Linked DNA regions of Homo sapiens. The protein of the gene in region 2 purifies or fractionates together with the protein of the main gene of each other region. This does not show direct contact. Each region holds a gene or a part of one and is shown on either strand. Other genes may lie near its edges. The genes, in order: NDFIP2, EDAR and FGFR2.

Region 1 (3,657 bases), on a different chromosome or scaffold from region 2:
GGTGGAAGTGTAAAATGGCATAATGACTTTGGAAAAAAGTCTGGTGGTTTCTTATAAAATTGAAACATACACCTACCCTATTACTCAGTAATTCCACCCATGGAAAATAAAAACATATGTCCACAAAAAGATTTGTACAAGAATATTCATTCCTATCAGCTTTACAGAAAGATTTGTACAAGAATATAACAGCTTTACTCATAACAGCAAAAGAAAACTAAAAACCCAAATATCAACAGCAATGGATAAACTGCAGTGTATTCATTCGATTTATACGATGAAAACTATATGATAAAAAGGGATGAGCTACTGATATACACAAAAACATGGATCAATCTAAAAAACTTCATGCTGAATGAAAGAAGCTTTGTAGACTACATGCTGTATGATTCTAGAATAGGCAAAACTAGGTAATTTGAAGTGAAAAAATCAGAACAGTCACCTGGGGGGTATGAATTGATCTAGTAAGGATAATAAGGGAACTTTCTAGGGTGATGGTAATATTCTGTATCAGGTCATTAAATTTATCTGTAAAGGGCAGTGGTACAAACTGAATGTTTGTGTCTCTCCAAAATGTATATGTTGAAACCCTAATCGCCAGAGTGATGTTATTTGAAGTTAGAGCCTATAGGAGGTAATTAGGTTTAGATGACGTCATGAGGGTGGGGTCCCTATGATGGATGAGTGTCTGTGCTAACATCAGAGAGCGTACTTACACAAATCTAGATGGTATATATAGCCTACTACATACTATGCCGTATGGTCTAGCCTATTGCTCCTAGACTACAAACCTGTACAGCACGTTATTGTATTGAATACTGCAGGCAACTGTAAAACAACAGTATTTATCTAAACACATCTTACAGGACCCCAGTATATAAGGTCCCTCATTGAATGAAAAGACATTATGCAGTACATGAATGTCCTCAACCCTACCACCGTAAATGAATGGGCATGGCTGTGTGCCAATAAAATTTATTTACAAAACCAGGAGTTGGACCACAGTTTGCTGATCTCTGCTCTACATGTCAAAGGTGGTTTGGGTTACATGAGTATCTGAATTTGCCAAAGTTCATCCACTAGGCCATGTAAGATTTGTGCATTTTAATATACATTGATTTTACCTCAAAGAAAAAGAACCATAAACAAATATTAAAATGTAGGCTAATGATAAACATGTGGCTTGCATGCAAGTACACTGATCCCTGCAACTTACTTTGAAAGGATCGAAAAATAGATGGATTGATAAATACACAACAATACAAATAGAATAAACTGTTAACTGTAGAGCCCACAATTTGTATGGAGGTTAACTGTACAATTCTTTCAACTTTTTTAAAAATTTGGAAGTTTTAATATTAAATGTTATTAAATGTTGGGGGCAGATTCAGTAAGGGGCCACTGAAGGTTTTTGAGCAAAAGAACAAAAAATTTATACAGGTTGAGTATCCCTTATTTAAAATGCTTGGGACCAGAAGTGTTTTGGATTTCAGATTTTTTTTGGATTTTGGAATATTGCATATACGTAATGAAATATCTTGGGAATGGGACCCAAAGATGAACGTGACTATATGTGCATGAAACAAAGTTGTGTTGAATACGTACATGTGGTATTTTCCACTTGTGATATCATGTGGTGTTCAAAAAGTTTCAGATTTGGGGGCATTTTAGATTTCGGGTTTTTGGATTAGGAATACTCAACCTATATTCTACAAATATGATTCACACGATGCAAACAATTCCTGAAGGATGGTCAAATGAGGAAGAAAGTAACAGACAATATTCCATGCCAGGTAATGCATCAATATTTAAGGAGAATGGATTAAGTACAAAAAGAGTTCACTAAGACAAGAAAAGTCAGAAAAAGTCAAGAGAAGTAGAAAGCTTCTTATTAACTGTATCAGGAATAAGGACGGAGTTTCAAAGAACATTCATACTGTCAGTATAACAGAGAAATCAAGCAACATGAGAACTGAAAAGTAGCTATCAGACTATGCAGTTGGGTAACCTTGATTATGTAAAAGAGGTGTGGTAAGAATATAAGCCAGATAAAGTATACTGATAAATTCAAAAGAAACAAACAAGAGACGATCAAAGGAATAAGGCTGGCAAGAAAAGGTGACAACTAGAGAGTAAGGAAAGGTAAGAGCCTGCAACACTTCTTTCCAGTGGAAAATGAAATGAGTATAACTAAAACTCATTATACATTATCTCATCCAGAACATGTACTATTCAGTAAGGCAGTCAGCCATGGGCCTGAATGTCCCTGCACATTCTTGCTGAGTGTGTGTAAAGCTTTCCATTTCCTCATACTGAGCTGTTTCTTCTAATAAGTTACACAGGGAACAAAGATCAGGCAACCACAGTGTGTAACTGCCATCCCAGGAGAAGGTGAACTAGTTTGTTTGTTGTTTGCTAAGATATTTGCTGCTTGCTTTAAAAAAAAAAGAGCTGCACCCTTGGTTCTGAGTTTCTGAGTTCCTCAGCTGTGATGCAAACCCACTGCACGAATCCATATGGACACCCAGCCCCTCTGTGGAATTTGGTAGCTAGGAAAACCTACACAAATATGCTGATGTTCGTGCTGCTTGCTATGTCATGAGTAATGATCAGTCTTTAACCTGGAGGTCACCTCTTTTTTGCCAGAAACCGTGAAACATTAACACACTAACTTATTAGCTTGTAAAAAGGGTACTTATTTATCATGTACCAGTCTTTACATGTTTTACACATGTATTATATTATTTCTCACAATAATCTTTGTCAGGTAGATACTAATATAAGGAAACTGAGGCTTCAAGATGTAAAGTAACTAAGCAAGGTCTCACAAATTGCAAACAGCACAATCTAATATATAAGCCCAGATGGCTTTAAAACCTGTAGGTTTTTTACCCGTTAATAGTCAGGCCTCCTTCAAGCCTCCTTCTCAGCTAATTTATCGAGGGCAACTCTAATTCCCCAGATACAAGAGCAAAGTACTCAGATCTTTGTAGAATGAATACTTCAAATTATGTTCCATAGAAAATTGATATTGTAGAAATGTTAACATAATCTTAAAATTTTAAAAACAAAGAACAAAACAAAACAAAGATTAGGAAGAGCTAGGTTAAAGAAATCCAAATCACTGTCTTTACTGCAGAATTTTTCATGGTTTTAATATGCTAATGTATTATAAATCTTCCAGTTACACTTACTATCATTCTGAAATACAGTTTGGGAAATTACTGCTACAATCAACACTGCCAATTTAACTTGTACACAGAATAAGAAGTCAGCTTGGTACAGGTACAATCTTAGAAGTCAGCTTGGTACAGGTACATAATCCTTTAAAATAGAGAACTTTGGCCGGGCTCTGTGGCTCACACCTGTAATCCCAGCACTTTGAGAGGCCAAGGCGGGCAGATTATTTGAGGTCAGGAGTTCGAGACCAGCCTGGCCAACATGCTGAAACCCCATCTCTACTAAAATACAAAAATTAGCCAGGTGTGGTGCACCACACTTGTAGTCCCAGTGACTCAGGAGGCTGAGGCAGGAAAATCACTTGAACCCAGGAGGCGGATGTTGCAGTGAGCCGAGATCACGCCACTGCACTCCAGCCTGAGTGACAGACACTCCATCTCAAAAAATAAAAATAAATAAATAAATAAATAATAAAAT
Region 2 (3,657 bases):
CACTCATGATCATTTCCTCTCCTCTTCTGAGCTTTCATCCGAGTACCACCTAACTCCAGGTGATCGATACCTGAGCACCCTCCTCACCTTTGTGGGCGTGCTGGAAGGGAGACAGGGTGCTGCTGCCCGAGGTGCCAGGGAAGTTGGCAGAAGCTCCTGAAGTGGCTCCCACACCTGCAAGGAAAATAGAGTCCCTCAAATGATCCAGAGAAGCTCCACCTTCAAAGACGCTGCCACAGAGCTCATGGATCTGGATTCATGATCATGAATGGGCCTGAGGCAGTGATGGCTGAGGGGAGCTAAATATTTGTATTTCTTAGACTGTTTAATGAACCCTAAAGAGTCATCGTTATTGTTCTTTTTTTTTTTTTTTGGTGAGACGGAGTCTTGCTCTGTTGCCCAGGCTACAGTGCAGTGGCGTGATCTCGGCTCACTGCAAGCTCTGCCTCCCTGGTTGACGCCATTCTCCTGTCTCAGCCTCCCAAGTAACTGGGACTACAGGCACCCACCACCACACCTGGCTAATTTTTTTGTATTTTTAGTAGAGACGGGGTTTCACCATGTTAGCCAGGATGGGCTCGATCTCCTGACCTTGTGATCTGCCCGCCTCGGCCTCCCAAAGTGCTGGGATTACAGGCATGAGCCACCGCGCCCGGCTGGTTATTGTTCTTTAAATGAAAACACTCATGTGATAAGTCTGCTAAAACTAAACAGTGTGGGTTGGGGAGTTTTGCAAGCCTCACCAACTCAATTTTCCTATGCGTGGAGACAAAGTATATGAAATCCATAAAAATAAGCAACATAGAGTGTGTACATGAAAGTACTATTAGGGTGATACAATACTTGACTAATTCCTTCAATTACATAGAGTAGGAATGTGTTAATACTTTTTCCAGTCATAAAAGTAATATATGCTCACTATTAAAAATCTGGAAAAGGGGGCCAGGCATGGTGGCTCACGCCTGTAATCCCAGCACTTTGGGATTGTTGTTCAGCATCAGTTTGAAATAATAGCTTCTTGATTTATACATATAAATATTGTTGTGGGAAGGAGGCTGGTGATAAAAGTGTATGCGATAGCTATCTTTACGTAGTATGGGTATGAGTTCTTCTTGTTAGAAGGACAAGAGGTGGCGGATCACGAGGTCAGGAGATCAAGATCATCCTGGCTAACACAGGGAAACCCCGTCTCTACTAAAAATACAAAAAATTAGCCGGGCGTGGTGGCAGGCGCCTGTAGTCCCAGCTACTCGGGAGGCTGAGGCAGGAGAATGGCGTGAACCCAGGAGGCGGAGCTTGCAGTGAGCTGAGATTGCGCCACTGCACTCCAGCCTGGGTGACACAGTGCGATTCCGTCTCAAAAAAAAAAAAAAAAAATCTAGAAAAGGGGCCGGGCGCGGTAGCTCATGCCTATAATCCCAGCACTTTGGGAGGCCAAGGTGGGTGGATCACTTGAGGTCAGGAGTTCAAGACTAGCCTGGCCAACCTGGTGAAACCGCATCTCTACTGAATACAAAAAATTAGCCAGGCATGATGGCGCATGCCTGTAATCCCAGCTACTTAGGAGGCTGAGGTAGGAGAATCGCTTGAACCCGGGAGGTGGAGGTTGCAGTGAGCCGAGATCACACCACTGCACTCTAGCCTGGGCAACAAACGTGAAACTTTGTCTCAAAAAAAAATAAAATAAAAATAAAATAAAAATAAAAATCTGGAAAAATAAGAACACAAGAAAGGAGGAAAAGAACTACCCATGGCCTCCTTGGCTAAGTGGACTTTTGCTGTATTTCTGCCTAGGATTTTTCCTCAGACATGTTTTTACATGGTTGTGACCAAAGAGTTTCAGAGCAAGGTGTGCTTTGCCTTCCCTTAAAGCTATGCTTCCCACAACTCCCCTTCTATGGAAAAAGTGTGACTTAGCGGGGATAAAATGGAAGCTGATTTTGCTCTCAGTCAAATCACTAAGACGCAACCATTCAGCCAAAACAAAAACATTCCACCACAGAAGAGACCACGTCCTGTTCCAGACCTCCTAAAAGAAGATCAACCTTCTTTTGGGCCAGACTTCAGTTTTGCAAATAATAAAGCCAACATGCTTCAAATGCATCTCCCACTCTCTCACTTTTGTCTCTACCAGTTCTGGAGAAATCCGTGAAGTGCACTTGGTCTACAGAAAAGCAGCCCCTGAGTCAAGGACAAGGCCAGCTGCCATCCCCAAATCAAGGTACCTCCCCAGCCTGGCCCAGCCCAGTGGAATGGCCCAGCACTGTGCCTGGTCAGCCCATGCAGCAAGGCTTCCGGGAGAAGCAAGCTTCCTAGTTGGACTGTTTTTCTGTTTTGTTTGAGACAAGGTCTCACTCTGTCACCCAGGCTGGAGTGCAGTGGCACGATCTTGGCTCACTGCAACCTCTGCCTCCTGGGCTCAAGTGATCCTCCCACCTCAGCCTCCTGAGATGCTGGGAGTACAGGTGTGTGCCACCACACCTACTTTTTGTATTTTTTATAGAGAAAAATGCACGTTGGCCAGGCTGGTCTTGAACTCCTGACCTCAAGTGATCCACCTGCCTTGGCCTCCCAAAGTGCTGGGATTACAGGTGTGAGCCTGTAATCCATGCCTGGGCTGGCTGTTTTCTTTAGTAGGAAGTTCTCAGGAGAAACGCACACTCTTGTTCTGTGAGTGGGGGCAGCCCAGGAGCTAGTGACCAGCTGAGCTATCCACTCGTGTCTGCTCTAAATGGAGCAGGGCCACAGGAGAATGGGCTGGATGCTTCTCTGTCCTCACACCTTGTAAAGCAAATTGGAAGCTTGGCCAATGAAACATTGGGCTTGGGAGGGACCAGGGCAGCTATGTCATAGGGTATGTAAGAAACATCACCTGTCCACTGAGGGGCAAATGATGTTTCCTTGTGTTTCTGGATGATGAATGGAGGCTTTTTTCCTCGTGGGCCTCAAACTTATGATAAATCTTTGCTTTCTTAATTTAGCCTCTTACTTGGCCTCAGAACCAGTGTTCTTATTAGGGAAAGAGCTGCCCAGGCACGGTGGCTCATGCCTATAATCCCAGCACTTTGGGAGGCCGAGGCGGGAGGATCACCTAAGAGGAGTTTGAGACCACCCTGGCCAACATGGTGAAACCCCAACTCTACTAAAAGTACAAAAATTAGCTGGGCCTGGTGGCAGGTGCCTGTAATCCCAGCTACTGGGGAGGCTGAGGCAAGAGAATCGCTGGAACCCGGGAGGCGGAGGTTGCAGTGAGTCGAGACCACGCCATTGCACTCCATGCTGGGCAACAAGAGCGAAACTCCATCTCAAAAAAAAAATAAAAAATAAATAAAAATAAAAAAAGAGCTGGTGGAGAAGTGCGTGCCCCTAGCTGAAAGCCACAAGCCCATGTCAAACAACAGAGCGTTCCCCCTCACAGACCTTACTGAAGTTGCTCTGGAAGTCTCCAGTGTGATAAGGAGGCTTCAGATTGTGTGCCCATTTCTGTTTGCTGGGGGGTAGCCTCCCACACTTCATCAGGTGAGTGAGCATAGGGGCATCATGGCATAGTTTCCAGCATGACCTAATTTCCTTTATAAGAGCAAACAAGAGATTGAAAAGAAGCTGATCTATCTGTTCAGTAAGGCGCTCAAGGGAGCTTAAGATACACTGTCAGAG
Region 3 (2,964 bases), on a different chromosome or scaffold from region 2:
TTCCTGAAGTTTCCTTTAACAGTGCATTATGGATTTAACATACATGAGTATGTCTAAGCCTTTTTTGAACCTGTTTACATTTTCAACTCGGAGAGCTTCTGAGAGTAATCAGTTACATCTGTTAAATTACCCACTGAATGAAGAAGTATTCCCCTTCAATTATCCCCGAAACTACAATAGTAAAATGTAATTCAGAAAATAAATATTCATAGTCTCAACTACTTAAAGGGGGTCTGGGGACCCACAACATGTTACCGGTTTTCATTTTGCTGGGGCTCGCATTTGAAGCAAGGGCTCTAGTGAGGAGGTGGTGTAGACTCAGCGGGTTATTTAGGTCCGTGTGAAGCCGAGTTGCCTGCCCAGCACCTATAGCTCAACTAGGTTTTATTGTTCTCTACCTGTCAATAGTTGATTTATGATGGATTCCAAGAGAAAAGCTAAGGACAGCCTGGGGTACATCAGACGTGGTCTCAGGGAGGTCTTCGTGGAAGTCAGGTGGGCTGGGTCTCTGTTCACCTTCTAGGGGTCTCCTGTCCTGTCCCACGTCCAATACCCACATCTCAAGAGTTTGTGTTTGAAATAAAACTCTTCTCTTCCCTTCTTTCAGGAATACTTGGACCTCAGTCAGCCTCTCGAACCGTATTCACCTTGTTATCCTGACCCAAGATGAAATAAAACGTCTCTCTTCCCTTCTTTCAGGAATACTTGGACCTCAGCCAACCTCTCGAACAGTATTCACCTAGTTACCCTGACACAAGAAGTTCTTGTTCTTCAGGAGATGATTCTGTTTTTTCTCCAGACCCCATGCCTTACGAACCATGCCTTCCTCAGTATCCACACATAAACGGCAGTGTTAAAACATGAATGACTGTGTCTGCCTGTCCCCAAACAGGACAGCACTGGGAACCTAGCTACACTGAGCAGGGAGACCATGCCTCCCAGAGCTTGTTGTCTCCACTTGTATATATGGATCAGAGGAGTAAATAATTGGAAAAGTAATCAGCATATGTGTAAAGATTTATACAGTTGAAAACTTGTAATCTTCCCCAGGAGGAGAAGAAGGTTTCTGGAGCAGTGGACTGCCACAAGCCACCATGTAACCCCTCTCACCTGCCGTGCGTACTGGCTGTGGACCAGTAGGACTCAAGGTGGACGTGCGTTCTGCCTTCCTTGTTAATTTTGTAATAATTGGAGAAGATTTATGTCAGCACACACTTACAGAGCACAAATGCAGTATATAGGTGCTGGATGTATGTAAATATATTCAAATTATGTATAAATATATATTATATATTTACAAGGAGTTATTTTTTGTATTGATTTTAAATGGATGTCCCAATGCACCTAGAAAATTGGTCTCTCTTTTTTTAATAGCTATTTGCTAAATGCTGTTCTTACACATAATTTCTTAATTTTCACCGAGCAGAGGTGGAAAAATACTTTTGCTTTCAGGGAAAATGGTATAACGTTAATTTATTAATAAATTGGTAATATACAAAACAATTAATCATTTATAGTTTTTTTTGTAATTTAAGTGGCATTTCTATGCAGGCAGCACAGCAGACTAGTTAATCTATTGCTTGGACTTAACTAGTTATCAGATCCTTTGAAAAGAGAATATTTACAATATATGACTAATTTGGGGAAAATGAAGTTTTGATTTATTTGTGTTTAAATGCTGCTGTCAGACGATTGTTCTTAGACCTCCTAAATGCCCCATATTAAAAGAACTCATTCATAGGAAGGTGTTTCATTTTGGTGTGCAACCCTGTCATTACGTCAACGCAACGTCTAACTGGACTTCCCAAGATAAATGGTACCAGCGTCCTCTTAAAAGATGCCTTAATCCATTCCTTGAGGACAGACCTTAGTTGAAATGATAGCAGAATGTGCTTCTCTCTGGCAGCTGGCCTTCTGCTTCTGAGTTGCACATTAATCAGATTAGCCTGTATTCTCTTCAGTGAATTTTGATAATGGCTTCCAGACTCTTTGGCGTTGGAGACGCCTGTTAGGATCTTCAAGTCCCATCATAGAAAATTGAAACACAGAGTTGTTCTGCTGATAGTTTTGGGGATACGTCCATCTTTTTAAGGGATTGCTTTCATCTAATTCTGGCAGGACCTCACCAAAAGATCCAGCCTCATACCTACATCAGACAAAATATCGCCGTTGTTCCTTCTGTACTAAAGTATTGTGTTTTGCTTTGGAAACACCCACTCACTTTGCAATAGCCGTGCAAGATGAATGCAGATTACACTGATCTTATGTGTTACAAAATTGGAGAAAGTATTTAATAAAACCTGTTAATTTTTATACTGACAATAAAAATGTTTCTACAGATATTAATGTTAACAAGACAAAATAAATGTCACGCAACTTATTTTTTTAATACTCGTGTCTTACCAAATGGTTTCCTGTGCTTGGAGGTGCTGACTGAGTGCTGTTGTGAATGCAGGAAGGGCAGGGCTGCCAAGGGTCTTATGTGCTACACACGGGGGTGACTTGCCAGAGGGGTTGACTGAGACCAGCAGTACCTGTGACAGGTTGAGGTTGATCCAGTGGAAAATCTGAATCAGTTGGTTGGAGCCCTGGCTCGGTTGCTTACTGGCACCTCAATGGAATCATCGTTCCTTTCTGAGCCCTACCAGTTCCCCAGAGGAGCAAACAAAGAGCCACATGGTAGAGAGCTTTGCAAACTGGAAGGTGACCTAAGGATGACAGGTATTGAGTAGGGAAGACGTTCAGAACATCTGAATCCTGGGGACTTAAAAACCTTTTAGGCTGTTTTCTTCATGATGTATGGAGAGAAGGATTTGCTTCAAATTTTCCAAAAGAAAACTTGGACAAATGTTCGAATAATTATTTATTTTCATACCACCAACGATCTGAAGAGGGAAATGGAGTTTTGCCTGTCAGTTAACAAATGTGAATCTGTGACTCTTAAGGGTCTGTTGTATCTACTTG

What was found.
Region 1: the proteins of EDAR (region 2) and NDFIP2 purify together in Homo sapiens (affinity purification with mass spectrometry; one large-scale study listed by BioGRID and IntAct). This does not show direct contact.
Region 3: the proteins of EDAR (region 2) and FGFR2 purify together in Homo sapiens (affinity purification with mass spectrometry; one large-scale study listed by BioGRID and IntAct). This does not show direct contact.

What each region holds. Positions count from the first base shown.
Region 1 is NC_000013.11:79,484,001-79,487,657, reverse strand, and holds part of NDFIP2 (NEDD4 family-interacting protein 2), read right to left. Parts: intron 1-3,657. UniProt on the Homo sapiens protein: Activates HECT domain-containing E3 ubiquitin-protein ligases, including ITCH, NEDD4, NEDD4L, SMURF2, WWP1 and WWP2, and consequently modulates the stability of their targets. As a result, may control many cellular processes.
Region 2 is NC_000002.12:108,912,591-108,916,247, forward strand, and holds part of EDAR (tumor necrosis factor receptor superfamily member EDAR precursor), read right to left. Parts: intron 175-3,657; coding exon 88-174; intron 1-87. UniProt on the Homo sapiens protein: Receptor for EDA isoform A1, but not for EDA isoform A2. Mediates the activation of NF-kappa-B and JNK. May promote caspase-independent cell death.
Region 3 is NC_000010.11:121,477,757-121,480,720, reverse strand, and holds the end of FGFR2 (fibroblast growth factor receptor 2 isoform 1 precursor), read left to right. Parts: intron 1-607; coding exon of another isoform or gene 608-670; exon of another isoform or gene 671-699; coding exon 700-864; 3' UTR 865-1,050; coding exon of another isoform or gene 1,051-1,140; 3' UTR 1,141-2,389; downstream 2,390-2,964. UniProt on the Homo sapiens protein: Tyrosine-protein kinase that acts as a cell-surface receptor for fibroblast growth factors and plays an essential role in the regulation of cell proliferation, differentiation, migration and apoptosis, and in the regulation of embryonic development.